7 linked regions of the Homo sapiens genome follow. The protein of the gene in region 7 purifies or fractionates together with the protein of the main gene of each other region. This does not show direct contact. Each region holds a gene or a part of one and is shown on either strand. Other genes may lie near its edges. The genes, in order: BRMS1L, BBX, SIN3A, SAP130, MIER1, HDAC2 and ARID4A.

Region 1 (4,453 bases), about 22 Mb from region 7:
AAACTATATATGGACGTTGAATAGTCAAGGTCAATTTAGCTGTAAGAATATCACACTTTGAATTATATTTCCAAAGTACTACATTTCAGAAAATGGAACGATGATTTATGAGCATAATGCTTTGGCATCCTAAATTCTGACTTCAAATTATTCTTCAAACCACTTAGTACCAGCATAAATACAGTCTAGTACTTCTGATGTCATAACTACATGCCCTTAATTCCATGATATCATTGATTGTAATATACATCACTAACACAATCACTGGTTTTTAAGGTGGAGGGGAAAAGATGGGGGTAGAGGGATGGTACCATAGAGAATGCCGAAACTGAATATACGTATTAATTTACACTCCAATTTTGGAAACATTTAAAAATGTTTTTAAAAAGTATACGAGGCTAGGCACAGTGGCTCATGCCTGCAATCCTAGCACTTTGGGAGGCCAATGCAGGCTTAAGCCCAGGAGTTCAAGACCAGCCTGGGCAACACGGCAAAACCCCATCTCTACAAAAAATACAAAAATTAGCCAGGCGAGTGGCACGTGCCTGTAGTCCCAGCTACTTGGGAGGCTAAGGTGGGAGGATCACCTGAGCCCGAGAGGTTGAGGCTAAGGTGAGCCATGATTGTGCCACTGCACTCCAGCCTAGGTGGCACAGTGAGACCCTGTCTCAAAAAGAAAAAAAAAGTACACATGAGAATTAAACAATCATACTGTATACTAAACGACTGTTTCACATCAAAGCCCTTGGTGAACGACAAGTCACATTAATTTTCAAAGTTGAGATCATGATTGAATTTCTTCTCCTCTGCCACCTCTCCTGACCTAAAGTATACACTATATCCTCTGTCTTCAATCGGTTTTATAAATAAATCATCTTTTGCTTATTACAGGATCATGCAAATAAAGTCAGTGTTTACAAATAAAAGTTATAAAGGCATGCACAATGGAAAAACGCACATCAAGGAAAAAAAAACAGAAAATTTGGAAAAGGATATCTGAAACAACAACTGGCTTCTTTTTGTCAGGACTGAAAGGATCCTTCCTCTTTTTTCTTGACTGAAGCTCATCATTCCACAGCTCTGGCAGGTAAATAAAGATTAAGTATTAGTGGGTTTCTGGTGAACAAAGGAGGAAAAAAGACTCTAATTTTATGGTGGCTATTTAGTTACATGTAAAAACGTAAAAAACTTCATTGGCAGCTGGGTATATATAGATTAAGCTGTACATAATTTCATGAGCACTACGTGTTTAAGTTTTGCTCTGCCTTTATTAAAGCAAAAATCAATTTGGCACTTCATGACTAAGAACTGATTACCATATTGTCATGCACTTTGTAAAATGTATATTACATGCATTGTCTCACCTAATCCCCAAAGCTACCACTGAGGTAGGTATTCTTATTACTTTCCTTTTACAGACAAGGAGATTGATTTAGAAAAGTGAAGTAACTGTCCATGGTCACCAGACTAGTAGGTGAGGGAGCACTGGCACTAGAGCTCAGCTTATCTGACTCCACCATGCCTACCCTATAGAGAACTAAACTTTATAACAGATAAAGTAATATATACTCAAGAACTGTAGGATAACCTAGTAGACCTTCCACTCAATGCAAAAAACCTTTCTGTAACACCCTGAAAAAGCCAATTTCACACTGGACTGATCTAATCATTAATAAGTTATTCCTTTTTCTGAAACAAAAATCTACCTCCCTATAACTTCTATCAGTTTGTCCTACCTTGTATGATGTCAAAAAGGTTTTCATTCCTTCTTCCACATAACAGTCTTTCAAGACTTACAAGGAAAAACATATACTATAGCTAATTTCCAATACTATTCTTTTTTTTTTTGGAGACAAGATTGCCCAGTCTGGAGTGCAGTGGCGCCATCATGGCTCACTGCAATTGCAATCTCGAACTCCTGGGATCAAAGGATGCTTCCGCCTCAGTCTCCTGCATAGCTGGGACTGTAGATATAGATGTGCAGCACCACATCCAGCCCTGACACTATTCTGCCAGTAGGTTCCTGTCATACTTCTGTTTCGTCCCTTGTCGTGTGCTCCATTTTTTACATCTTTCTAAAGTGTGAATTCAAATAACAATAACAATATAATCACCATCACTTTAGAGTTCTTCCCCTTTTCTCCTTTGCTGGGACATTTCATTTACATAATATTAATATTAGAAGACTGAGATACGATATGACACTACAGTAAACCAAAGGTCTGGTGCCACTCAAACATCACAATCATATCATTCTCCTTACCTGAGGTAATATCAATGCTGTGCCTATCCTCTTCAAGCCTTCTTATCTTCTCCTCTAGTTCACTCTGGACTGTATCATATAGCAACAGCTTTTCGCTCTGGGGAGAAAAACAGATTATACTTAAGTAGAAAGAAAAAAATTGGTGTATCTTAACTAAGAGTACCAAATAACTTAAAGTACTTTAATATATGATGCTTTGGTTTGCTTTTTCAATTCAATTAAAAATTCTAAAGAAGAAATGTCAAATACATGAAAGAAATAAAACTAGAAAATATAGAATCTATATATAGATTTAACTACATGCAATTACATTCTGTATAAGAGCATCTAAATTATGTCTGATGTACATTTAGAGGTAAATATTTACTTTATAAAAAACTCATAGCAAACCCCTATGGCCCCTTTTAAATTTAAGTAGGTCCCATCTGTCACCATCATGGAAAACTTATCCTATAAAGTATATCATTATAAAATGGATCATATTTTCTCACAGGAATAATAATTGGGTCATTATGCCTCACTAATATCTCAGCATCATATTAAAATAGGCAAAGAGAAAGATTCAAGTACAAATTTTATGATTATTTAAAATAATTCAATTATAGTCTAAATTATAAAATTACAGACTAATCATATCCAAATCTTTCTACAAAACCATAGACAGATTGAATTGCTACAACATACAAGACTGGCAAATAGACTAGAACCCAGGTCTACTAGCTCTAGTCCATGTTTTTAATTATATAATACTGTAGCCCTAATTTAAAAAGCCATAAAATGTACATAATATATAAAGATCAATTACACAAAAAAACCTATGGCCACATGTTTACCTCTAGTGAAGGATATTAGATAATTGGATATAGCAGATATGACTGTCTTGCGGAAGCTATTGGGATATAGTTGGATATGACTACATGTAGAAAACACAGGCCACACCCATGTAGGCTGCATTCCTGGTGTCAATCATGAAGCCCTCTCTCTTGAGTCTGAAATTTAGAAATTATACATGCTTGAAGGGTTTCCTGAGTGTCAGGGAAAAGATGGCTTACAAACTTGAGGCAAGCCAGGTGCTAAGGAGAAAGCAAAGCTGAAAACTAAAACTAGATTTCATATCAAACATGGTTTCATTGCATGCTGTTCTCTCTGCTTACTTCCTTTTGCTTGTTCCCTTGCCTTTAGTAAAGTCTTATGAAATATTCCAGCTTTATCTATATTGTGCTGCAAAACTCGGAAAATATCAGAGAAAAAGGGAGAGCAGTTCCCCTCCACAAGACCGTGGTAGCAGCTATAAATAGATCCAATCTCCCCAACCAAAGATGACTCTAAATACAGAGCTGGAGTGATAAGCCTTTTGCTGTTAAGGATATGAACATTTAATTGGTGTATTCTCTTTTCTTCCTATTGACAAATTAGGCCAAGCAGAAATTCTTTTAAAAATCCACTAATCATTCTTTATTATTTTTTAAAAAGCCACAATGAAACTGAAATGTTTGAAGCATTGAAGGCATCTCTAAAAATATCAGAAGTATACTTTAAACTGCCATGAATCCATTCTCATTCTTATTTCTCTTTCTTTTTCTTGGAAAGTTCTCTCCCTTTTCTCCAGCTTCTCAAGACACTCAAAAACCTCCCCTGAATGGAAAATGAAGCCCTAATGGAACAGCTAGAAGATACCTGGAAAAGAAGGGGGCTAACTCTCTTGCTTTGGTGGCTGTGGAGTTTTCTATGTTCAATAGTTACTTTGGTTTTTAAAAAAATACTACTCATAAGTATAGGTTTGGTCTCAAGATCCCACATCCCTCTAGTCTTCACATCTAGACTTACTGATCCTGCTCACTAATAACCCCTTTCCCAGGCTGACGCCTATGCTGTTTCTCATCAGGAGAGCTTTAAAAAGCCCCAGGAAAGTGGCCCCAAGCTTCCATTATTGTACCGACCTCACACTGACCTGTATTCAGAACCAACTCCTCTTTGGCAGTTCCCTGACTTAACATACCTCACAATTCTCAACTTCTATCAGGACTGGAGCCCTGGAAGATTTTCATAGGCTATTATCAGAGAGTGACCCATTAAAACGCTACAATAGTTTTTTTTTTTTTTTTTTAAGCATACTGCACTGGAATAAAAAAAATGCAGAGTAGAATTTTAAAACTTAGAAACAGACTCTGGCTATGCGGAAATGACAAA
Region 2 (3,892 bases), on a different chromosome or scaffold from region 7:
CTGGGATATGCATATCTTCTGGGGTACGTAAAAGGGAAAAAACAGACACAGATAAAACCAGAGTGGGAAAATGTTATTTGTTGAAGCTAGATTATGTGTATATGGGGTTCAAAATACCTCTCTACTTCTGCATATACTGTATTTGAAAATTCCTATAATTTCAAAAAGGTAAAAAGGTTTATGATAAATTATGATTCATAATTTTATCTTTAGTATAAATCCTTTTAAAATATGTATGGAATGGAGTCAGTAGTATGTTTTAGCTGACTGTTGATTAGAATCACTTAATTTTTCCTTGCAATAGGTTTTATGTTCTATTCAAAAGGATCGGTGCAATTGTGTAATACACACAGGACCATAAAACTACACTTATGTATATCCTGTCACTTTTTTCCTAACAGAATTTTAATCTTTGGTATGGACCCCATGTTCTCTCTCTCTCTCCCTCACACACACACAATCTTATTCTCAGCAATGGAAAGGAGGTGTGCTGGAATATCTCGTATAATTCATTAGACAGGCTAATTTTATAGAAAAATCTTACATAGTGCTACATATAAAAGTTATGAGTTAATGGGTGCAAATTTTTACCTATTCTGAGTTTTCCATACCATCAAATCTCCTGCAACAGCTTATCTCTACAGCATCAAAGTTTATCTTGAATAGTTATACTCATCATATCTTTTGAATGTACTTAAAAAAATGCTAACCTTACAGTTGGAATTAAAACAATACAATCAATAATTACCATTTAATGGGCATTTATGCTACAGGCCCTATGACAATATTTTCATATATACTCTCTTTTCTTCACCACAGCAATGGTATGAGGAGGTATCATCACTATCAATAAATCTGAATTAGGGAGGTTAAAAAAAACCCAATGGTACATGGGTAGAAGAACTGTCTGAATACAAAGTCTATTTGTTGATAATTAATACTGTGTGCATGCATGCGTGTAGTTTCCAAAGGATTAAAAAAAACAACTTAGGAACATTGTATTCACCAAATCTGAGGTGCGAGTTTATACTTAGGTAACACTCTTAATGAAATCGCTTCCACAGTTTTGTCCCAGTTCAGGGAAAGATGGTGTGTTCTGATCACTAGTCCCAGAAGCGCACCCCAGAAGCGTTCACCCAAGTGGCGTACTGAAGCATATCCTCTTCTTCTATTGGGCTGATCATCACTCTACACTTTTGGGAAAAGCAACCAAGGCTGTCCAGACAATGGCAAATCACAGGCAAACACAGTTTAGGGGGACACATCATTCGATGTTCTAAAATAGTTGAAATATCTTACTTTTATTAGTATTTTTCCTACTGTTTTTAGTGAAAATGGTACATTAAAGGCACATACTCTACGGCCAGTAGTGTGAACATAAAGAAATATATTTGAATAATATCTTTAAAATATTTCAAAGTTTTATTAAATATTTTTATTCAGTTTTAAGATCACAGTTAAAGTACTTTAGCATGTTATACACATGACTTACATGTGCAATTTTTAGAAATATCAAATTAGGTATAAGATTTTGAAGAAAGAAATTATATAAATGTGTATATTGACTTTTACTACACATACATCTAAGAAAGCAATAATTCTGTTGTACCATTAAGTGGAAATCATTTATTACATGGCATGTTTACACCAACTCTAAAGAGAACCAAGCCAATTTCTGAAAGCAAAAAAAAAAAATGAGCGATTCAGTCATGCTGAAACTGTCAACAGACTTTAGACCTGGTGGTCAAATGAAGCTGTGGTTAATTTATGACATGTGAGTAAGCAATTCAAACCTACGAGAAGAGTTTATAATCTGGTATGTGGAGTCTCAGGTGATTTTATTCTTTTTTCTGACAAATTCCTGAGAGCAAGAGACTTGTTTAGTGCTAATGAAATGGAGAAAACGTTGCTGAGCCAGTTGCTGAGCTCCAGATCGCAAACCTTCCCTACCCCCCGTTCCACGGCTCTTAGAGCTGAGGCACTCATGTGAGGAGTCAGGGGACATGAGCCCACCCCTCTGGTGGGCCACAGAGCGAAATCAGTGTTAATGCATGAAACATGCATGTCTCTGTGATTTAGGTTAGAGCTTGTGAGGTAAGATTTGCATTGTGGGTGGAAGAGTTTTGAGGCATTGAATTAGATCCTTGTTACTCAGTAACCACCTCTGGCCCAAGTTATCAGGAAATCTTTGGAGGGAGCAGTAATGTTCACAATAACTAGTTCTGTGCATAAAAATCGATTTAAGCACATGATCAGTTTTGACCACTGACTGCAAAAAGAAAACAGCAGCCATATAATTTTTAACCACAAGGTTTCCTCTCTCAATTTAACAGTATGAATCATACCACCATAGATCAAATTTGGCCAGAAGAGGAACCTTTTTTTTTTTTTTTTTTAAAAAAAAGATGCACATTTATATATTTGAAGGAAGGGTAGCACATACAGATGGGGATTATGAGGGAGTCAAATACATTTGTCTTTTTATTCACGCTTGTTGCTTCTTTGTTCTGAAATATAAGGAAGATAAGGTCCTCAGTGAAATGAACAAAGTTGTTTAATATAGAGTATAATAAACTTAGCTATCACTTCCAAACGAAAGTAAAGCAGTCCATCAAACCCTGAATACTTCGCCAGACACATCTGGTAAGATGAACTGAACAACAGCTTCTTTTAAAATTGTAAGTATGCTGTTAGTCAATCTAAATAAGATAATTTTTAAAAATCCAAAAACTCAAAACAAAATCCAAATCTAGTTCTTTGGGAATGCTTGTATAAACAAAAGCAACATCTAATTAACAATTAGTATACTTTTTATAAGGTGCAAAATAAGGAGCTATTTGGGAAAGCTAAGTTTTAATTTCTACCTAGCAGTCACTCTGAATACTTTATAGGTCAAATGTAACAACAGCATTTGCTTCTACTGCCCATTTTCAGCAATACATTGTTCTCTCTGGAGGAGGCAGTTTGTGAAGTCAAAACACTGCAGTGGAAAATAGTGGCACTGAAGGTAGAAGCAAAAAAAGACAAACTTTTGAAACAGGACTTACTGAAATTAACTTTTAAAGCCGAGGTAGCCCATTAGGATTGGCCTTATATGAGGGCTCTGTGGAGCAGTGCAATTGAAGGTGAATCTCCTCAACAGCATCACACCCCGCAACATCCCCTTTACAAATGATGGCTCCAGGCCTCCTGCAATTTCCTTCCTTTTCCCAGATGAAGTGGTGGGTGCTTCTCCTTTGCTGTATGGAATGCCATCCTCCAGCCTCCAGCTGCTCGTCTTCAGAACATTTACGATTCATACAGTAGTTTAGCAGGCAGCATGGTCCCACTGCTTCACATTAATGTCAAATGCCAAACTTGGAACAGAGTTTTTTGGTATTTTCCCTCCCCTCCCCACCTTATAAACAAAACATGGCATTCAGTTTTCAGCTTACTCCTGTTCTGTAGCAATTTGTAATTAGCTTGTGACTTTACATAGGTGCAAACATTTCCATACATTGAGCCAAAGACTGCAGAGTGCAAACAAAATTTTATCTGACTTACAGTAGCATCTGACTTAATAAGAAAACAAAAGGATTTGAACACATTGGATTCTAAATAACCAGACCAGTTCAGATGCTCCTTTTTGTTCATAGTGTTCCATCATTATTTTGTTTCTCCAGCAATTTTAGTGGCAGGAAGTAGAATCACAATGATAACGTGGGAATTATTTTAACATGGCTTTGGGACATGGCATCGGTAGAAAGCTCATCTGACAGAATTAAATAAATATATTTCTGATATTTGTGGGAAAAAGACTATCGGAATTACAACAGTAGAATTTACCTTTTAAAAGGGGTTTTAATGAATTAACAGTTTTGATCTAAAATCTGGGAACTAACCTAATTTGGGG
Region 3 (4,453 bases), on a different chromosome or scaffold from region 7:
TTCTGGCTGGGCCTCTGCGGCTTGTTGTTCAGTTGGGGCTTCTTGACAGTGCCTCCATGATCATTTCTCACAGAATCAACCTTCTCAGCAGTTGTTTTGCTTAAAAGCTGATTAAGACACATGAATGAGATTAATGCTCTTATCAAAGCAAACAAATATCATCTAGGAAAAGTCCCCTTCTGAGCACAGTTTTCCAACTCATCTAAGATAATAATAGTAAATAGTGTAATTCTTATTAAAAAAACATACCACGGAGCTGTTGGCATCTGGTAGGAATTGTCCAAACTCTGACAACAAATCTTCCTGGTTTTTAAAGAGACGAGCAACCTGGGCATACACCTCCTGCTCTGTCAATGCTGGAGTGTAGTTTCCTCCAGCTTCCTTGGCATTTCTCTGCTCTTTCTGAGGAATTGCAAATGAAAAGAGATCATTTGGGCTACTGTTTTGAGTCACTCATCTTTGCACGCTTTCTGGAATCACTGTTATCTATTTAGGCTGCATGTAAGAAGAAAGTCTATGTTCTTAGCACCCGTTCTGACCACAGACTTTCAAGTTGAGAAAAAAAAAAAGTTGAAGATGGTGGATGACAATTCCTTTCAAAACTAGGGTAGTAAATATTTTTGAGACGGAGTTTCACTCTTGTTGCTCAGGCTGGAGTGCACTTGTCTCGGCCTCCCAAAGTACTGGGATTACAGGCGTGAGACACCATGCCCGGCCTAGGGCAATAAATATTAATGCCCAGGGGACCACTACCAACTGACAAAACCTTAGAAATTTCTCCTCCTCCTACTGTACATTAACTAGACTATATAAATCACCATCTAACTGTCCCAGATAAAACTGAGTTTCATTTCATGGGACAGTGACTAACAATCCTGACTGAGGCCGGGCACGGTGGCTCATGCCTGCAATCCCAGCACTTTGGGAGGCCATGGCGGGTGGATCACCTGAGACCAGCCTGGCCAACATGTTGAAACCCCGTCTCTACTAAAAATACAAGAAATCACTTGAACCCGGGAGGTAGAGGCTGCAGTGAGCCGACACTGCACTATTGCACTCCAGCCTAGGCAAAAAGAGCAAAACTCTGTCTCAAAAAAAAAAAAAAAAATCCTGACTGAATGTTGCAGGGCAATCAAGTCAGGCAAATAAAACTGGCTTTATAGCATGGGGGCGGTGGCTCACGCCTGCAATCCCAGCACTTTGGGAGGCCAAGGTGGGCAGATCACAAGGTCAGGAGTTCGAGACCAGCCTAGCCAACATAGTGAAATCCCATTTCTACTAACAATACAAAAAATTAGCTGGGCGTGGTGGGCGGAGCCTGTAATCCCAGCTACTAGGGAGGCTAAGGCAGGAGTATCACTTGAGCCCGGGAGGCGGAGACTGCAGTGAGCTGAGATCGTGCCACTACACTCCAGCCTGGGTGACAGTGCAAGACTCCGTCTCGAAAAACAAACAAACAAACAAACTGGCTTTAAAAACATGCATGATAGTTTCTAACTGGTTAATTTCCAGTATGAATTAATGGACACAATAATGGTTACTTGTTATTGGACTAGATGCCCTAAGAGGGTGACCTGGTTAAGACAGGCTGAATGGGCACTCCTTACCTGATATGTGTGCAAAATCTCCAGGAATGCTTTGTAGATGTCTGGTTGGCCCTGAAATCTGTTCTTGATCTTATTAACATAGTTGATGGCATGATTAAACTCCACAGGTTGATTGTTCTGCAAGGATGGGGCCGTTCCCAACGAGATTGTCACTGGTGTGTGAGGCTGGACCGGCGGAGAACGTGGGGATGCATACGGTGGAAGTGGGGGAGTCTGCTGACTGGCCGGAGTATGTGCTTGCAGTTGGGAGGGCTAGAAAGAAAAGAAATCTTTATTCTCTTCAGATGCATAGATGAGTTGATACAAGGAAAGTTCAAACTAAAGAGAAACAAGGTGTCAACGTATATCCTTTATTTACTCACTCAGGCCAGGTCATTTTAGTCCAACACAAATCATACTGGGCAGCAGTGGGAGTTGTAGGCGGTTCAAACATGCTGATACAAATATTTCAGTCTCACATTTTCTAAATAAAACCTTAAAACTGGAGCCATCTCCAATTACAGGGAAGAATTTTTCATATGCAATGTTTTAGCTTAGTAGCTCAACAAGTACACATAGAAAAAATCTCATTCTACATAGCCTTTTGATGTCAACAACAAGACAACTGTTGCAGTAGCTCCACATAAAAAAGTCTTCTACGCCAACTCTGTCCTGTAGAACTGAGATGATGGAAATGTCCTTTATTTGCACTGTCTTATACATAGCCACCAGCCACATGAGGTTACTGAGCACTTGAAAGCTAGTGCAAATGAAAAACTGAATTTAATTTAAATAGTCCTATGTGGCTAGTGGCTACTGTGTCAGACAGTGTGGTTCTAGACCAAGAACACCCCATCTTCATCACCATCACTATCACTATTCATTAGATCTTCTACTTAGCTTGATATAATCTAGTTAGTGAAATAACTTTCATAAAATAACCATGTGGGCAGCAGCACAATTTGACCAGGATAAGACGATGGTTTCTATCTGTGCTGTCAACTACTACTACACAAAGTCACCACCTGTTGGGATGTTCATGGTTTTATAAGCAGAAACTGTAAAAAGAAAGACCTTGAAAGTTGTTGCTGTGTTGATTTAAATAGATACCTAAGTAAGTGATGTGTAAATGTGAACCATGTCATAGTGAAGTTTTCATACAGCATTTTTCTATGACGAAATCTTTGTAACTTTGTTTCTCAGTATCTAAGTCTTATATAAAGGGGAAACATCAAAGGAAGGTGCTCTCTAGGGATGCATTCATATTGATGCAATATTTTCCAAGTGCTCACCTTGCTGACTTTGGCAGGTGGGGGCTGAGGAGCTGGCTGGGCAGGAGCTGGGGCTGACTGGGCTGAAGGCTGGGAAGGATGTTGGGGTGGTGGTTGAGGCTGTGGCTGGATGCCATGGGTGGGAATCTGATGAACCTGGCCAGGAGTTGTCACATTCACCATGTCATTGGTTTGCACCTCAATTTTGTAGCCAGGGGGCAAGAAGGTGTTGAATCCCATTATCAGATCGGGGTGGCCTTTGAATAGCTGGGACACACGACTAATCACTCCTGGGGTGTCGATGCTGATAAAAAACAAAAAGAAAAGTGATAAACTGTAAGCTTAACAAACACCCTGTTAAGAAAAAATTTCATGTTTTTTTTTCTTTTGAGACGGAGTCTCACTCTGTTGCCCAGGCTGGACTGCAATGGTGCAATCTTGGGGTCTTGGCTCACTGCAACCTCCACCTCCCGAGTTCAAGTGATTCTCCTGCCTCAGCCTCCCAAGTAGCTGGGATTACAGGCATGCGCCACCATACCCGGCTAATTTTTGTATTTTTAGGACAGGTGGGGTTTCACCATGTTGGCCAGGCTGGTCTCGAACTCCTGACCTCAGGTGATCCGCCCACCTTGGCCTCCCAAAGTGCTGGGATTACAGGCATGAGCCACCTCACTCAAAATTTCACTTTCTACTAGGTTTTCTCTAAACAGGAAAACAGATCATCTACGCATTTTAAAATTAACACACGAACTCTGAAATTCCAAAGCCATTTAGTTTTAGACTCAAAGATACTTGGCCACAATTTGTTTTTTTTTTTTTTGAGACAGAGTCTCATTCTGTTGCCCAGGCTGGAGTGCAGTAGCACAATCTCGGCACACTGCAGCCTCCGCCTCCTGGGTTCAAGCAATTCTCCTGCCTCAGCCTCCCAAGTAGCTGGGATTACAGGCACCCGCCACCATGCCCGGCTAATTTTTGGAATGGTCAAAATTTTTAACAGAATATATGTTCATTGTAATAATTCTACCAAGCAGATACTCAGATGATATATATAAAGCTACATATCCCAAACAAGATTCACTCTTTGATATACCAGTATACATCATTTCAGCACACATCTACATTGTTCAGATGAGTTACACTCTTACAACAGTGAACCATGCCAGAATATAAGGGTATCTAAACCAATTCAGAAACCAAGTAGCCTAAATCACTACCAGTGCTACTTCCCTGATTGAGACAAAACACTGGAAAAAATTTAGTTAAGGAAAATTTACCAATAGGGATAAAAAAGTCTAGTGGCCATAATTTCCATCAATAAAGGTATGCATAAAATAAAGGCATGATTTTGAAAATTCAGCTGCAAAAAGGAGCATCCTTTATCTTCCAGTAAATAAACTATATCCTCTTCCTTCCAAAATCAATATGCCAGATACAAAGCTTGAGTACAATCACACATCTTTTACCTCTGAGATTTAAATTCCTTCATGATGTCAAGGAAATCATTGTAGACCTGAGGCTGACTACCAAACTGCAGCTTCACCTGGTCAAGATAAGATAGCGCATCCTCCACCTGAGGCAGGGATAAATATCAAGGTT
Region 4 (4,453 bases), on a different chromosome or scaffold from region 7:
TCTTTGTTCACAGCTTTAGCCCCAGGATTTAGAACACTACATAGCTCATTATAAAAAAAAAAAGCCACTCAATAAATATTTACTTAAATGAAGGAACGAAAGAAAAAAGAGTGAAGGAGGAGGATGGCAGGAAGGTTCAAACTTCATACTCCCCATGTATACCTAAGTGCTGAATCAGTAGCATGCGCCGCTGTCGTAGTGATGACTGGAGACTGAGCTCTGGTGGCTGAGACAGTTGCTACCACAGCAGGAGGGATGGCATTGGAGGTGGTCACAGGTGGCCGAGACTACCAAAAGAGAAAAAACAGTTCATTTAAAACAAAAATAAAATAGAGGAAGTCAAATACTAAATGTGTAATTTGAAACTTGAGCCTACAGATAAGCATGTTTCTGCCCAAGTAAAAATAAATTCTCACCATTCCAATTAAGGAATTCTCTTTTCAGATAGGTTGTTATAAGACCAAGAGCCAGGCCGGGCACGGTGGCTCACGCCTGTAATTCCCAGCACTTTGGGAGGCTGAGGTGGGCAGATCAACTGAGATCAGGAGTTAAAAGACCAGCCTGGCTAACACAGTAAAACCCTGTCTTGACTAAAAATACAAAAAAAATTAGCCGGGTGTGGTGGCACGCGCCTGTAATCCCAGCTACTCAGGAGGTTGAGGCAGGAGAATCGCTTGAACCTGGGAGGCAGAGGTTGCAGTGAGCCAAGACCGCACCATTGCGCTCCAGCTTGAGCAACAAGAGAGAAACTGTCTTGAAAAAATAGAAAAGAAAAAAAAAAAAGACTAAGAGTCAGAATTATTAAAAAAAAAAAATCCCTTAAGATACCACTGACAAGTGTTTTGAAAAAAAAAAAAAAATCCCATTTTGATTGAACAGTACATGAGTCCCTCCTGTACAAATGTGATTGGAGTCAAAATTCTGCCCTACTATTGGTACCAATGGGATCTCACCCTTCAATCTAGAGTTGCCACAGGTCTGTTGTTGGTCCTGGTGTAGACATTTTACGCTGCCATCCAACCCAGCACCTCCACAGAGGGCCTACTCAGCTGCTGAATAGAGCTGTTGGCTCTCAGGCCATCTACGTTAGTGAGTACAAGGGCAACTCAAGGTAACAGTATTCTTTTCTAGGTAATCGTTCAGGGTGCCCATATCCTTTCTGGATGTTTTCACATGGACAGAGTGCCCTTATCACACTTACGTGTGAAATCTTCCTCTAAAAAATAAGCTCCACACTGGGCTTCATCCACATACCCACCATTATTCTTCGAATCACCTGAGTTCTGATTCTTCCCTTGCTCTTAACCCTGAAACATGCATCTAAATGGCCGAGCTCTGCCCATTCCTCATCCTTGCTTTTCATCTACAGCCCTTTTACCTGCCGCTTCTACCATGTGCAGGTGCGTGTCTCACACTAGGGCTACAGCACCAGCTTCCTCACTCGGGAGCTCCTTGTCTTGGTTCTCGTCTTCCTCCAACCCTTCATATGTATCACATATACTACTAGAGGCCTAATACTCCTCCGACTCTGTTTTCTTGGCCAGAAAAGTATTTATCTTGAAAGCTGTAGGCTAGACAGATACTACCCAGTATCATAATCAAGACTTCCTTATTATCTTAAACCCAGTTGTTTCATACATCTGTCTGTCCCCTGAAAGTGCTTAAGGGGACAGACCTCCTGTATGTGATTCAGCTAGATTAATCTTATCTTTCTTATTTTTTGTGAGATGGAGTCTCACTCTCTCGTCCCAGCTAGAGTGCAGTGGCACGATCTTGGCTCACTGCAACCTCTGCCTCTCGGACTCAAGTGATTCTCCCACCTCAGCCTCCCAGGTAGCTGGGATTACAGGCACGCACCACCATGCCCAGCTAATTTTTTGGCATTTTAGTAGAGACAGGGTTTCACCATGTTGCCCAAGGCGGTTTCAAACTCCTGATCTCAGACAATCCGCCCGCCTTGGCCTCCCAAAATGCTGGGAATTACAGGTGTGAGCCACTGCGCCTGGCCTAATCTCATCTTTCAACAGTATTACTTTAATGATACACAGAGCCATTGTGTTAAAAAGACAAAAATGATTTTTGGCCGGGCACAGTAGCTCACGCCTGTAATCCTAGCACTTCAGGAGGCCGAGGCAGGCAGATCACTTGAGGTCAGGAGTTCGAGACCAGCCTGGCCAACAGGGTGAAATCCTGTCTCTACTAAAAGTATAAAAATTAGCCGGGCATGGTGGTGCACACCTGTAGTCCCAAGTACTTGGAAGGCTGAGGCAGGAGAATCGCTTGAACCCAGGAAGCAGAGGTTGCAGTGAGCTGGGATCGCACCACTGCACTTCAGCCTGGGCAACAGAGTGAGACTGTCTCAAAAAACAAAAACAAATAAACAAAAAAACGCAGTGGCTCTCTACTGTATATAAAGTCTAGTTTATACTCCATATCCTAGAGAACCCAATTTATAGATACTATATTTCCTGCAAATATATTATACTTCAGTAATAATGAGGTCATAGATTTCCTTAAGAAAAAGCTGAATGGCATGGACCATGTTCTTGGAATATACATAGATATACACCTAACTTTTAGGAGTCCACAGATCCCCCCAATCCAAATTAAAATCCCTCAATCCTAGCTAGCCTTTACTAACTGCTGTCTACAACCATCACTCCCTTCCTTGCCACTGTTCATTTCCCCCTTCACTTCCTCTTCACTTCTCTGATTCCTCGTTAGCACAGCCTTTCCAACAGGAAGGCTTCCCACCATCTCTCCTCTGCATTCTTACAGCTTGCCACATGACACTGTGCATCTTTCAAACTTCCCTATGTCTTGGCAACTAGATGGAAAGTCCCTGAGGTCAAGGATGTGCCTAGTGCCTGGCAGAATGAATAACTCCAATGAGGCCCTTAATGCACCCCAGGCTCCGACGTGCCTGGATTGGTTGGTGAATGATGTGCTGTACTGCTGGCTGAGCAGTAGCAGCATTTGGCAGCTGTGAGGTCGGCCTCAGGACTGTGGTTACTTTAGAACTGGACATCACAGCAGCAGCAGCTGCACCTGAAAAAAAAAAAGTGTTTATTATATTTATTCTAGTTATATTCCCTGGGAAAATAATCAGTATGTTTCCCAAAACTCAGATAGCATGTCAATATCGAGCTGAAGTATGGTATGTATACTTCCCATTTCATCACAGAGAAAACAAAGAAAATGTGTATTCAAGAGATTTAATAATAATTTATATTGCCTCTTCACAGACAACCTTAAGTGAAACTAGCTGCTGTTTTTTGTTTCTGTTAACTGCAAGTGTGCACAGTGGTAAAGCACACAGGGAACAGCAGTGTGATGCCACTGCCTCAGCTCTGACGAGGCTCGGACACTTTGCCTTCCAGTCTTTGTTCCATTAGAGCAGACGTCGACATTGCCAAAGGGACACATTATGAACCTTAACCTTAAACCTAACCCTGCACTTTTCACCCTGCAGACCCCCATAAGGGCCTGTGAACCACATTTGGAGAACTGCTGAGTTATGCTATAACCAAGCAAACCTGGTCTTGCGTTTGCTAACTTGATTTTGCCAACAATCTCCAATTGTTGTAAAGTCTCCAATAAAAGGTAAAAATTTCTAGTCAAAATTCATTTATTACCTCACAACCTATTAGAACTTAAGGGTAAAAATAAATTAATCTTAGCCATGTGGTGGCTCACACCTGTAGTCCCAGCCACTCAGGAGGCTAAAGTGGGAAGATCGCTTGTGCCCCAGAAATCTGAAACCAGCCTGGGTAACCCAGTGAGGCCCCATCTCAAAAAATAATTATCATCATCATTTTATTGTTACATAAGTTAAAAAACTGAGTAAAGATCATCACTGAACTTTAAAAATATTCAGTATTAATATTTGTGACTTATGTATTAAAAATAAAGACCATGTTGCAGATAAGCAGTCTAATAATAAAGACCATGTTGAGATTATCAAAGCTTGGGCAGTTCCTCAATATATAGGACAATTTTAGACCATATTAAACACTTTAATTGCATAAATATACACACTTGTAATACAACTATAATAAGCACATATTAAACCATGCTAAAAACATGGATTGCTCTAAGTTTATTTCTACTGTCTTGCGATTTTTTTTCTTTTTCTTGAGACAGGTTCTCGCTCTGTCACCCAGGCTGGAGTGCAGCGGCGCAATCTCAACTCATTTCAACCTCTGCCTCCCGAGCTCAAGCCATCCTCCCATCTCAGCCTCCTGAGTGCCATCCTCCCATCTCAGCCTCCTGAGTGCCATCCTCCTATCTCAGCCTCCTGAGTGCCATCCTCCCATCTCAGCCTCCTGAGTGCCATCCTCCCATCTCAGCCTCCTGAGTAGATGGGACTACAGACGCATGCCACCACACCTGGCTAATTTTTTGTATTTTTGTAGAGACAGGGTTTCGCCATGTTGCCCAGGCTGGTCTCAAA
Region 5 (4,453 bases), on a different chromosome or scaffold from region 7:
AATAAGCTGTTTATATCAGTTATTTACTCTCGTTTGTTTTTATGCCTTTCATTGATATAAAATGGACTTCTAAAAACTAAATTATAAAGATTAGAGAAGGGTTAAAGTTTAGAGCACTGAAAATACGGGGAAAAAAGTAAAAAAAACTGTTGAGACATTGTAAGTCACTTTAAAATGAAAAAAAGCATTCACTTTTTCCTTTTTTGGCTAGGCTTCTATAGACCAAACTGAAAAAATTGAGTACACACATTCTTCTCACAGAAATAATGAAGGGTCCTCTTTCACAAACCAATGGGGTTACAATGGGGTTACTTAGTAGGCTGTCATGTTCTTATCACATTTTACATATAAAGTAACAGTTCATTACACTGAAAGCATAAATTCAGCTACGTAACTTTACTAATAACCCACCTTTTTCATTTTCTTTGTATCTACAAATGCCAACTGGAATTTCTGCTTGAAACATGGAGCCCACCATAATCTCCTATTTTAAAAATAACATAAAACATTAGTAAGATCTAGTAACAGATTTTATATCCATTTTCTAGCCTTACCATCTTAGTAAACTGTTCCTGGTTTCTCTGTCATAAAATACAAAAACAACCAATTAACTACCTCAGAGGTACCTTTGTGAAGATGAATGACAAATAATGACTGGATGAAAATATTAGTAATAATACTGAGGTGAAATGCAACGTAAACAATAAATACAAACTTTATTTCAAAATATAGAGACAAAGAAGTGAATTCTGATAATTCCATTAGTAAGACAACTGCAAAACATGTAAAACACAAAGTCAAATTCAGATATTTTCAGAGTATCTACACTTAAGACAGTGGTCTTAAATATGATCCCTATATGAGCAGCATCAGTGTCATCTATGAAATTTTTGTTTTTTTGAGACAGGGTCTTGCTCTGTCACCTAGGCTGGAGTGATCATGGCTCACTGCAGCCTCGACCTCCCAGGCTCAAGCAATTCTCTCACCTCAGTCTCTGAGTAGCTGGGACTACAGGCACATGCCACCACACACAGCTAATGGGAAACTGTTAGAAATGCAAATGCTCAGGTCCCACCCCAAACCTACTGAAACTCTGGGGACAGGACTCAGTCATTGGTATTTTAACAAGCTCTCTAGGTGATTCTGACATAGACTGAAGTCTGAAAAACAGAGCTTCAAAGTAGGAAAAATAACAAAAAGGGTTTGTATAAAGCTCAGTAGGGGCCAAATGAAAGAAACTCTAAATGAAATAGATAAGCAGGTTATGGCTTGACTTTCATTAAAACAATACAAAATGAAAAAGTAACCTCCTCCCACAAATATAATTAAATAGGAAATCCAGTAATCATATCTATACAGTCAAATCACAGATTAGGTGAAACTGGATGTTCTCAAAAGCAACTGCAAACTACCACTGGTGAAATTTCACAATGCAAGGAGACCAAGATTACATGAACCCTCTTTTGTGTGATGGCTAAATGTTAAGAACACATTTACTGACATTTTCAAAATTGGGCATGAAAGGTACAAAATCATGGTCTAGAAGTTTTGGTAACTCTTAGGATTTGGAAAGTCTCTCTCCTGCTATTGTTACCTCACTGATGTGAGGAGCTCATTTTATCCAGTACAACTTCAAAGACGTGCTTTATGTAATAAAGTTATTTCTATACCCATAAGAAAAACCAATCTTTCTCATGATCAGTTTTCTAAAAAGAATCAAACTTACAACAAATTTTCTCTACCCTTACAATGGAATTCTCTTTATGTCTTCTACTATAAAAAGAGTCCTTTATTGTCACATCTTGTGCCTCTTTTAACTTAACTCACCTAGGCCTACCAAAGAACATTGTCAAGTTACTAACCCTGGCTGGGGTGCTTCTAAACCATCAATGCCTGGATCCACTGCAGGACAATTAAATTAGAATCTATGAATGAAGGCCCTGGTAGTCAGTACATCTAAGTTATCCAAATGATTCTAACATAAAAACAGGGTTGAGAACATCTGGATTAGTTTAAAGATAGGTACTTCCTTTTTCCTGTTCAGTTCTGAACATTTCTTTTCATCTGTTAATTTGTTCGGTAGTACAGGGAAGGGAAGGGAAATAGCTTTGAAGATCATTATGTGTTAACATATCATATATGCAATTTTCCTTTAATCTTTCAGCAAGCCCCATAAGGCTGACATTGTTATTCCCATACTATATGTAAGAAGATGAAGCTCAAAAATTTGATTTTCTCAGGAGCACACAATTACTAAGTTCTAGAGCTACAACTAAAATTCAGGTTTGACTTCAAAACTGTTTCCCCTACCTTAAGTTTCTATAAAAACTCAATTTCATCTTATAAGTCTTAAAAAAAAATGAATCTCTGAACCTTGACAATTATTTAAAACAACAAAATCATACTGAAAGAAAACAATCTGCATTTACTCTGGCCTGCTTTATTACATAATTTTTTTCTGAGAAAGGTGTGGTTAATTAATACCCTTTCTGAGTAAGGTGTGGGTAATTAATACCCTCCAGCAATGAGAGGTGTTCTACCTCTGAGCTTTTGTTCTTTCATTTAAAAAAAAAACACTGAATGCTTAATCAAATACTCTACTGAACACTCCAGATTAAAAAACAACACATGTTGAAGATACATAAACTTGAATATGAAGTGGGACAGCAATTTATAAGGACTCCCAAGGTTTCTAGCTTTTTTCATCTTAATTTCTGCACACTGTAGGAATCAGATTAAAAACAGGATGAAAGAACCCTTGCCCAAATAGGCCACACAAATTAACTTTTGTGATTCTTGTTTTCTGTCGAGTCCCATCATTTGCTCAAATTAACACATACCGTAAACTGGGCTAACCTTGTCTCTCAACAAAAATAACATTATTTCTTTGTTTTAACCAGTTCTACATAAAAAATTTTTTTGAAGACATGGGGTCTCACTATGTTGCCCAGCCTGGTCTCAAACTCCTGGGCTGAAGTGATTCTCCCTACCTCAGCCTCCCAAGTAGCTGGGACAACAGGGGAAACATCACTGCAACCAGCTAATTCTACATAATGTTTAGATAGATTTTTCCTAAGAGCTCAGTTCTTTTACAATAACTTACAATTCTTTAACTTAACTGTATGATTAATTATATGCTATATAATTTTATAATTAAAAACTAATCTCAATATATTATCTTTAGATTCATTTCAGAAATTAATTGTATATAGTTACGAAGAAGCCAAATCTGTTTCTTCATATAATAAGCTTATCAGTTGTAAATGTCAACATTAAATTCAATCATTTGGAGAGTTTTTCTTTTATAAAGTAATACAGAATGAAAAACTTGCAATATGAACTACTAAACAAAATTTACTTAACAAATATCAAAGCCTCCACAAATGCTTTCCATAATATTGAAAAACATATACGTGATACTTTTTACAGGGCAACAAATGCCTAATTTGGCACTAGTTCAGGACTAAATCAGAAATGTGGATTTCTGTTTTATTTATTTTTTGTTTTGTTTTATAAAATGAGACAGGGTCCCGCAACGCTGCCCAGGCTGGTCTCGAACTCCTGGGCTCAAGCGATCCGCCTGCCTCAGCCTCCCAAGTGCTGGGATAACAGGCGTGAGCCACCACACCCCGCCAGAAATGTAGATTTCTAATCTAACCTAGATGTGTTAAGAAGGAATCTGAACATTTACCAAACATTTAAATGTCATAAAAGGGCTTACATCGATTTTATCAATATACATAGTTAGTAAAAAAAAAAATAATTACACGAGGCTTTTTAAAAAAATATTAATTTATCTAAATTTTGGGAAAATATTGTTCTAACTACCTTTTTCCAGTCTTCTGATGGAATATAATCTTCATCTTCTTCAGATTCTTCTTCTACTTCACTATCTAGAATAAATAAGACACCAATACTATAAAATGACTGCTTATCCTGTCTAAATCTACATATTATTTTTACATCTACCATCAAATATTTGGATATGCTCAAAGATATCTAATGAATTAAGCCAAGATATTTCTAACCAAATAATTAACACCCTATCACTTAAAAAAACAAAACCAAAAAAACCATAAACTTTCTACATAATTGTATTCTCATGAAATGATTTCCTATAAAAACTTAGGGGAAAAAACTGATTTAGAATAAAGATAATATTATCTTACTACATATTTCATGACAGTTTATTTTTCTTCAAGTGTTTTTCTTCCTTTTAAAGTAGAGAAATTTAGGTGTATTTATGAATATACCTAAAAAAGGCTAAGAGGCAAAGAAAGTAAAAAATGGAAACTAAGGGAAAGACTATGAGAAACAAAAAGATGACCATGAAACAAACATTTAAAAACAGGGCAAAGAAAAAACAAATACACCCAAAGTCAAGTAGTACATGACACAATTACCATAGTATATTCACTAACAACAGGGACCCTGCATTGCTAAACTAATAACT
Region 6 (4,453 bases), on a different chromosome or scaffold from region 7:
ATGGAATGAATGGTTTATTTAATATTGAAAACTTTGCTTTCATGTATGAAGAAATGGCTCAAAAACACATAATAAAAATTGGGGGAATCTCTTTTTCTTTAAAAATGCTGAAACTCTAAAGGAAAAAAGTGTGTTTTTCTAATAGGGGATGGGAATAATGTCATTACTTAAAAAGTAGCATTTTATTTCAGAGCTGAGAGGTGAAGTAGACCAAAAAAAAAGTACCAATACCAAATATGTTAGACAGTCTATACCATTACACATACTGTTATGCTACAATCTAACCATCACATTAAGTGTAATGAGAAGTTGTAAAATCAAACAGATGTTTAGTTATTTAGTTCACCCTACTTTAGATAAATGAGATGTCTTATTAATTTCCAAATATACTAAAGTTGCTAATTTTTGAAAACTTTCAATCATATATGTATATCCAGCCATACAAACTGAAACTGCTGACACCCAAATCAGGTTCTGAGACATCAGGAAGCTAAATCTCTGAAAGTGGCAAAAATGACAATATTAACAGTGTGCTCGTGAACATGACTTTATAGTGAAGTTCTTAGGCCACTAAAACCTTCCATTTCAATTATCATTTTGACAAATTGGAAAAATAAAGGCATTATCTTACTAGAAATTCTCTTGTCTGGATCTTCTCCATCTTCATCTCCACTGTCTTCATGAACAGCATCTTCTGGAATAGCTTGCATCTGGACACCAGGTGCATGAGGTAACATGCGCAAATTTTCAAACAAACGCTGTCTAAATTACACATGCAAAGTTTATTAGACAAAATTAAATTTCTTTGCAGTTCTTACATGCAAGAGAAAATATTTAGCAAAAAATTTCATCTTTGGTCTAGCTAAACCTATATATTAAAAGGTCTCTCTTTGTTGCCCAGACTAGAGTGCAGTGGCAAGATCATAGCTCACTGCAGCCTCAAACTCCTGGCAATCCTCCTGCCTCAGCCTCTGCGCGTTAGGACTACAAGTGTATGCCACCATGCCCGGCTAATTTTTAAATTTTTTGCAGACAAGGTCTCACTATATGGCCCAGGCTGGTCACAAACTACTGGTCTAAAGCTATCCTCCCACCTCGGACTTCCAAAGCATTAGGATTACAAGCATAAGCCACCTTGACTGGCCAAGGAGGCATTATTTTAGCCTGCCATTTCAATGATGAGAAAACATAAGCACAAAGGCAAGTGAACTTATCAAACATCATACAGCTTGTTTGTGGTACAGAGGTGACTCAAACCCATGCTATGTACTATAATGTCTCTACTTTGCTTGTGGAGACAAAGCCTTAACAAAATGTTCCAGACAATGAAAATAACTTATAGTGCACCTTGCAATTTTAAAATACATTTCAACTAATAAAAAAAATTATTTCCATTAACTGAAGAAATTAAATGGCTGAATACGGTGGCTCATGCCTGTAAGCTCAGCACTTCTGAGAGGCAGAGGTGACAGGATCACTTGAAGCCAGGAGTTCGAGACCAGCCTGGGCAACCAAGCAATATCCCATCCTGACAAAAAAATTAAAAATTAAAAAAAAAAAAAAAGAATAATCAGTAACTTAATGTTTCAAATCCTTTAGAAAAAAACAAAATATCTAATAAAGTTAAAAAGACCCATCATACTTGGCCCTTTAAAGCATACTAAATCTTTGTCAAGATAAAATGTTTATCAAAACAATTCAATGATTTCTTACTTTATCTTTTCCATATATTCTGGAGTGTTCTGGTTTGTCATGTTTGAAGGACTAATATGCAGTTTGAAGTCTGGTCCAAAATACTCAAAGTAATCATTATATGGCAACTCTAATGAAAACAATAAAATAAAGTTACATATTACAAGCTCAGTTTTCACAAAAAACCATGCACAGAATCCAGATTTAGGTGGTGAAATATTTCCTAAGAAAATGTTTAAAAGTGAACACAAAGTGAATGTTCTCCTATTTATAAAGAATGGCACTTACTCTAATCATTCATCCATCTATTTCTATATACAGACAGTCTCTGACTTTCAATGGCTTGACTTACAGTTTTCTGGCTTTTTTGTACCAACTTCAATGTCTTGTATTCAGTACATTACATGAAATATTCAACGTTTTATTTTTATAAAACAGGCTCAGTATTAGATTATTTTGTCCAACTGAAGCCTAACCTAACTGTTCTGAGCACGTTTAAAGTAGGCTGGGCTAAGTCATGTTTGGTAGGTTAAGTGTATTATATCCATTTTCTACTTATCATACTTTCAACTTATGATGGGTTTATCAGGACCTAATTGCAACATAATTAGAGGAGCATCTGTATTGACAGTTCATACAATAAAGATATTGTAATGAGAACACTTACCATTGGGAATCTCACAATCAAGGGCAACTGCAGTCTCATATGTCCAACATCGAGCAACATTACGGATTGTGTAGCCACCTCCTCCAAGCATCAGTAATGGTAAGTTAAAAGTTTTTACAACTTCTACACATTTAGCATGACCTAAGACAAGAAGATTTGGGTAACAACAAAATCTGCATACTGCAACAGTTCGAAAAATAAATTTTAAAAAGATAATAAGTGCAAATGTTACTCAACCAAAATGGGTTTTCTAAATATTTTAAAAACAAATAAAAATGTAAAAAATGTCAAGTCTAAAACTCCTTTCCAAACACGTTATACAATAATACATATTAAAAAATTAAGATATAACTAGCTATTTTAGCAGGTGTCCCTGATGGAAAAGTCAAGTACACAACTATATTAAGATTATAATATGAATATACACCTATTTTATTAACACAGAAAGATGTTCATGTAGGGTTACATGGTGAAATTCATCATGTTACAATAAAACATTATGTATCATCTAAATTAATTTTTATTGACTTTTCTTTCCCTATGGACATGTGTAAAATAATTATGGAAAGCTAAACAACATAGTTTAACCCTGAGTTAACTTTAGGTAGTGGTACTGAGTAGTTTTCCTAACTTAAGAGTTAAAAACATCTATTAATTTTCAAAAACTTCAACTTCTACGTGTAGAAATTTAATATTAATAGTAAACCTAACATAAAAGTAAATATTTTATGTGGATAAATGTCATAATTCAATAAACATTTATAAGTTTCCAGTAAGTTCCCTTCTCGGAATATTACCAGTTAGGCACATAACTCAATCTTTAAAGAAGAAAAGAAAATCCTTCAATTACAAAAGACATTTGTGCATACTGAAGAGTATTTGGGAAAAAATTAAAAAGGGACAATGAAAAAACTAACCACCTAAAAATGACATTATTCAAAAATCGTTTTTCTATATTTCCTTCCATTTCAGAGTTAATTTTACAAAGTTTATCTGTTCTCTTCATGTAACTGTATACTGTGGGAATTTTCATTAAGCATTCTTCAATAGTTGCAACATGTGATTTACATAATTCTAGCACTCAATTTTTATTATTGCTACTAGAAAAGTTTCTTTTAACAGATAAAAACCATTTGGATATTTTTAAAGAAAAAACAAACATACTAAAAGTTAACTTACAGGCTTCCAAGTAAAGATAGCTGGCTAAACAAAGATGTTTACTTTTCCTTCATCCCAAAACTTGACAAAAATGACTCGAAAGGGATTTTTTTAAAGGCCAAAATTTGTAAAAATGAAGAATGGGAGACAATACAAGAGGAAGAACATAGCTGATGGCAGCAAGGAGATGGAAAAGAGATAACTAACTTCAGCAGATCTGAAAAAGCTGAATCAAAGCTGGCAGCAGAGAAACTCAGAATGAAGTTTAAGACTTGGAATTACAAATATCCTTACACGCTTTATGCAACTGAAACTCTATTAGCTGAAATACAAAGTAAATTTTTTTCTAAGAGTGAACTGCTGCAGTTTATGATTATAAAAAATATTAAGTACAAAAACATTAAGGACTTTCAAGTCAAAGAGGAAAACTGATAGTTAATATACACTTTTAAGAGTACATTAGGTAGATCATTTTAGAAAGTTTATAAACATTTTGAGGCAAAAGATGGTTATTAACACATTAAGTTACAATATGAAACTGCGGTTCAACCACTGTTGACCTACAAAGGGACAATTAATTTAATATCATTCCACTTAACATAGAATAACAGATTATACCATAATTCTAATATAGCTGGTATAGTAGCAATCATAACATTAAATAAAGAAGCTTTTAATATCTGTATTTAGTTATCCAATTCCATTAAGACCAGCAATTGTTCTGGAGAAAGTTCTATTTGAGAATTCTCCACATCTTAGAGAATACAAAGCACACTGTCAACTTGCTACCTAAAAGTTCACGTGGAAAAAAACCTCTAAAATCATACACAAACACTCATGATAAAAATCATTTCTAATCTACATATACATTATAATATCTTATTAAATAAAATTTCAGATTTATTCTTACACCCTAGAAGTTCATTCCAGAATGGT
Region 7 (4,453 bases):
TAATTTTCATGTTTAGACTTGGGTCCTATCCCTAGGATATCTCATTATGTATATGCAATATTAAAAAAAAAAAATCAAAAACCAAAAACACTTCTAGTCCCAAGCATTTTGGGCAAGGGATACTCAACCTGTACTGTGAATATTTCACACAATGGAAGTTTTATTATTTATGTTATTGATTTTTTTTAAAGTCAGCCATCCTCAAAATTGAGCACCTTCCATTCCATTTGACAGAGGTGAGCTGTCTGGTATATTGCTGCGAGCACTTCTGGTACCTGATTTTCCTTCACTGTTTGCTGTCTTAGATAAGCCATACGGCATGTTTGATGAGAGGGTTGATTTTAAAGGAGGTCGTCCCCGTTTTGACTTCTGCCTCTCCTCATCTCTCTTTTCGTCCTTTTCACTATCTTCTTTATTCTGGGCAACAACAACAAAATGTATGAGAAGGGCCAATGCTTTACGAAAAATGAACATTCTACTTATCCAAAGAAAACTACATCTCAAAAAAGGTTTGATATTTTATATGTCACTTCCTAGTCTGTGCTTACAGAAGAATCAAGAAGAGTTTTCTGGCTGGTCTGAGAGGTTATCAGAACTTATTAACATTAGTGTCACGGAAATTGGTATATAATCCTCCACTGCTGAATTTCTAACATATTTTGTATTTATGTAAATACAATATTGTACAATTTGTAATACTGCAATTATATTGTGATGGTCAGTTAGAGCTTTAGAAGACTATACAACTATTCCGCACTCCCCGCTGTTCCCTACTATCCCCTGCAGAAAGGAAAGATATCTATCATCCAGTAGACAAAACAATGGGCAAATCTCTACAGCAAAGCTTGACAACTGAGGATGTGGGTGAGGGTACAATTGGCCAGTATATATGTGTTTTAAAATTTTAGTATTGGCTTCTAGCATTTAAAAGTCAAATTTCACATTTTAAGAAAGATAGTGGTCTTGAAAAATCCTAAAATCTGGCAACCCTGGGTCTGCATTCCCACAGCAGAGTGGTTAGTTCCATTCCGTCTAAATGAGGAATGTGACCTCTCGTTTGTCACGGTTCGTCCTACTTTATCCTTCTCCTATAAAGCCTCTACAGGAATTTGAGTTTGAAAGTCATGCCCTAGGGGTTGCTGGTTTTCACCTTTGCTGAAACAATGTGGTAATGTGTTAGTTTTAAGCTCCTGGGTTATAAAGAGAAAATCACAATTATCTGTCAAGAATCAAGATTTTTTTTTTTTTTTTTGAGACGGAGTCTTGCTCTGTCGCCCAGGCTGGAGCGCAGTGGCGCGATCTTGGCTCACTGCAAGCTCCGCCTCCTGGGTTCACGCCATTCTCCTGCCTCAGCCTCCCGAGTAGCTGGGACTACAGGCGCCGGCCACCACGACCGGCTAATTTTTTCTATATTTAGTAGAGATGGGGTTTCACCGTGTTAGCCAGGATGGTCTTGATCTCCTGACCTCGTGATCCGCCCGCCTCAGCCTCCCAAAGTGCTGGCATTACAGGCATGAGCCACCATGCCCGGCCAAGATGATTATTACAATAAGATTTATTAAACAAACACAATATCGTATATGCATATTACTAAGCAAAAGAAGCCAATCTAAAAAGGCTATATGGTGTATGATTCCAATTATATGATATTCTCAAAAAGGCAAAAACTATGGAGAGAGAAAAAGTCTGTAGTTGTCAGGGGCTGGGGTGGGGGTAAGAATAAGCAGAACATAAAGGATTTTTAGGGCAGTAAAGCTACTCTGTATGATACTATAGTGATGGATCCATGTCATTATATATTTGTCAAAACCTACAGAATATACAACACCAACAGTGAACCCTAATGTAAACGATGGACTCTGAGTGACAATAATGTGTCAATGTAGGCACATCAGTTGTAACAAACATCCCACTCTGGTGGGGGATGTTGACAATCTGGGAAGGCTATGCATGCATGGGGCAGAGAGTATATGGGAGGTCTATATACCTTGCTCTCAATCTTGGTATAAACCTAAAACTGTTCTTAAAGTCTTAAAAAACACACAATACAATTTGGATAATTCCTATACATATTATAAAGGACATAAATCTACAAACATACTTTAGCTTTTTTCTTCTGTTTTTTCTTTGGTCCACCTTTGTCCAAAGGCCAGATTATCCTGTCAGCCTTCACCCACTCATCATACCTTAAAAAAAAAAAAAAAAAAAAAGAGTTTGTACAAACTTTATACATTATAACCTTTTTGAAATGTATTCACCAAACGAAAACAACAGTGAGACAGATTAAATAGTTTGTTCTTAGTGTTGGCAAGAATATGAAGGGCACAGGGGCTGGTTTGCTGGTAACATGTGCCAGTAACTGTAGTAGGTATTTTGTATACTCACTAGGGAAAGGCAAGAGGATTTCTTAAGAGTTAACAGGTTTAGAGGGAGAGTCTTGGAAAGCAAACTCTAGATTCAAGACAATCTGAACTGTTTTGTTTTCCACAGCTTTTACAGACCTGAGCTTATAATCAGATCTGCAATAGAATTCGTGCTATTGAATGAATAATAGAAAGCTAAGTCAGATAAATTCAAATTTGCAAGGTGATCAGTTTCAGGTTATTTTATCAAGTTATTTTATCAAGTCCATTTCAACTTCCTTTTCCTCCTCAACACTCTCTCTAGTATTTCCAATAAAATCTTCTGAACTACATTGCCTTTAGGATTCTGAAATTTTTTAGAGATATCTGTATTTCACCTACTTTATCTAAGTTTATTCTGTTTAGCTTAAGTTGAAAACTCATTTCCCCTAAACATTTACTTAAAAATTTATTTTAAAATTTATTTTAAATTTTATTTTTATTTTTGGGGGGCTAGTTTCAATGTTGTCACCCAGGCTGACATGCAGTGGTGCCATCTCGGCTCAATGGAACCTCTGCCTCCTGGGTTCAAGTGATTCTCATGCCTCAGCCTCCCAATATCTGGGATTACAGGTGCCTGCCACCACACCCCGCTAATTTTTTATTTTTCGTAGAGACGGGGTTTCGCCATGTTGGCCATGCTGGTCTCGAACTCCTGACCTCAGGTGACCTGCTCACCTCAGTCTCCCAAAGTGCTGGGATTATAGGGGTGAGCCACTGGACCCGGCAATTTTTTTAGAGAGGGTCTCACTCTGTTGCCCAGGATGGAGTGCAGAGGCATGATCTCCTGGGCTCAGATGATCCTCCCACCTCAGCCTCCTGAGTAGCTGAGACCACGGATGTACACCATTGCACCAAGCTAATTTTTGTATTTTTTATAGAGACGGGTTTTGCCATGTTGCCCAGGCTGGTCTTGAATTCCGGAGCTCAAGTGATCTGCCCACCTCAGCCTCCCAAAGTGCTAGGATTACAGGCATGAGCCATTGCACCTGGCCTTCTCAAATGATTACTATCACTTTTGATTGTCTATAGTCCAAGTGACTAATCAGGGGCAAATAAGAAATTAAGGTTTCTAGAACTAAATAACAGTTTTTACATTATCTAAATATACAAGTATTTACAGAATTAAGTCAAAATCTAAAAAATGTACAGTTAAGTAAAGAAACAACAGGCAGTCCTTGCTTTAGACCAGGAATGTCCAATCTTTTGGCTTCTCTGGGCCACAATGGAAGAAGAATTGTCTTGGGCCACACATAAAATAACACTAACGATAGCTGATGAGCTAAAAAAAAAAAAAAAAACCATGCAAAAAAATAAAAAAAACTCATGTTTTAAGAAAGTTTATGAATTTGTGTTGGGCCACATTCCAGGCCATGCTGGGCTGCATATGGCTTGTGGGCCACAGGTTGGACAAACTTGTTTTAGACTGTAGCGTATTAATAGAAACTCATGTATCTGGAAACCATATTCTTGCTTTATAAGCCAGTTACCATGGAGATGTACAAAGTAAGGACATGGTTCCTTTATGCATGTATTTCAGTTGACATGGTACCATGACTACCTATACAGATGCTCCTTTACTTATGATGCCATTATGTCCTGATAAACTCATCACAAATTGAAAATATCCTGTCGAAAAATGCATTTAATACATCTAGCCTACTGAACATCACAGCTTAGCTTAGCCTACCTTAAACATGCTCAGAACACTCATATTAGCCTAGAGTTGAGCAAAATCAACTAACACAAAGTCTATTCTATAATAAAGTCTTAAATATCTCATGTAATTTATTGAATACACTGTACAGTACTGGTTGATTAGTCTCATGATTTCTTAGCTGTTTGTTGTGGCTGCACAGTCTGATGAGAGAGTATCATACTGCATATCGCTAGACCAGGAAAAAAAATCCAAATTTAGGCCGGGCGCAGTGGCTCACGCCTGTAATCCCAACACTTTGGGAGGCCGAGGCGGGCGATCACAAGGTCAAGAAATCGAGACCATCCTGGCCAACATGGTGAAACCCTGTCTCTACTAAAAATACAAAAATTAG

The links.
Region 1: the proteins of ARID4A (region 7) and BRMS1L purify together in Homo sapiens (affinity purification with mass spectrometry; one large-scale study listed by BioGRID and IntAct). This does not show direct contact.
Region 2: the proteins of ARID4A (region 7) and BBX purify together in Homo sapiens (affinity purification with mass spectrometry; one large-scale study listed by BioGRID and IntAct). This does not show direct contact.
Region 3: the proteins of ARID4A (region 7) and SIN3A purify together in Homo sapiens (affinity purification with western blotting; 6 studies listed by BioGRID and IntAct, with this or other methods). This does not show direct contact.
Region 4: the proteins of ARID4A (region 7) and SAP130 purify together in Homo sapiens (affinity purification with mass spectrometry; one large-scale study listed by BioGRID and IntAct). This does not show direct contact.
Region 5: the proteins of ARID4A (region 7) and MIER1 fractionate together in Homo sapiens (co-fractionation; one large-scale study listed by BioGRID). This does not show direct contact.
Region 6: the proteins of ARID4A (region 7) and HDAC2 purify together in Homo sapiens (affinity purification with mass spectrometry; 2 studies listed by BioGRID and IntAct, with this or other methods). This does not show direct contact.

What each region holds. Positions count from the first base shown.
Region 1 is NC_000014.9:35,860,497-35,864,949, reverse strand, and holds part of BRMS1L (breast cancer metastasis-suppressor 1-like protein), read right to left. Parts: intron 2,361-4,453; coding exon 2,264-2,360; intron 1,081-2,263; coding exon 997-1,080; intron 16-996; coding exon 1-15. UniProt on the Homo sapiens protein: Involved in the histone deacetylase (HDAC1)-dependent transcriptional repression activity. When overexpressed in lung cancer cell line that lacks p53/TP53 expression, inhibits cell growth.
Region 2 is NC_000003.12:107,808,715-107,812,606, reverse strand, and holds the end of BBX (HMG box transcription factor BBX), read right to left. Parts: 3' UTR 1,268-3,892; downstream 1-1,267. UniProt on the Homo sapiens protein: Transcription factor that is necessary for cell cycle progression from G1 to S phase.
Region 3 is NC_000015.10:75,409,885-75,414,337, forward strand, and holds part of SIN3A (paired amphipathic helix protein Sin3a), read right to left. Parts: intron 4,428-4,453; coding exon 4,321-4,427; intron 3,162-4,320; coding exon 2,879-3,161; intron 1,860-2,878; coding exon 1,608-1,859; intron 403-1,607; coding exon 250-402; intron 108-249; coding exon 1-107. UniProt on the Homo sapiens protein: Acts as a transcriptional repressor. Corepressor for REST. Interacts with MXI1 to repress MYC responsive genes and antagonize MYC oncogenic activities. Also interacts with MXD1-MAX heterodimers to repress transcription by tethering SIN3A to DNA.
Region 4 is NC_000002.12:128,010,107-128,014,559, forward strand, and holds part of SAP130 (histone deacetylase complex subunit SAP130), read right to left. Parts: intron 3,049-4,453; coding exon 2,924-3,048; intron 288-2,923; coding exon 163-287; intron 1-162. UniProt on the Homo sapiens protein: Acts as a transcriptional repressor. May function in the assembly and/or enzymatic activity of the mSin3A corepressor complex or in mediating interactions between the complex and other regulatory complexes.
Region 5 is NC_000001.11:66,959,119-66,963,571, reverse strand, and holds part of MIER1 (mesoderm induction early response protein 1), read right to left. Parts: intron 3,894-4,453; coding exon 3,829-3,893; intron 485-3,828; coding exon 412-484; intron 1-411. UniProt on the Homo sapiens protein: Transcriptional repressor regulating the expression of a number of genes including SP1 target genes. Probably functions through recruitment of HDAC1 a histone deacetylase involved in chromatin silencing.
Region 6 is NC_000006.12:113,943,649-113,948,101, forward strand, and holds part of HDAC2 (histone deacetylase 2), read right to left. Parts: intron 2,501-4,453; coding exon 2,360-2,500; intron 1,823-2,359; coding exon 1,714-1,822; intron 763-1,713; coding exon 632-762; intron 1-631. UniProt on the Homo sapiens protein: Histone deacetylase that catalyzes the deacetylation of lysine residues on the N-terminal part of the core histones (H2A, H2B, H3 and H4).
Region 7 is NC_000014.9:58,356,865-58,361,317, reverse strand, and holds part of ARID4A (AT-rich interactive domain-containing protein 4A), read right to left. Parts: intron 2,187-4,453; coding exon 2,102-2,186; intron 418-2,101; coding exon 276-417; coding exon of another isoform or gene 216-275; intron 1-215.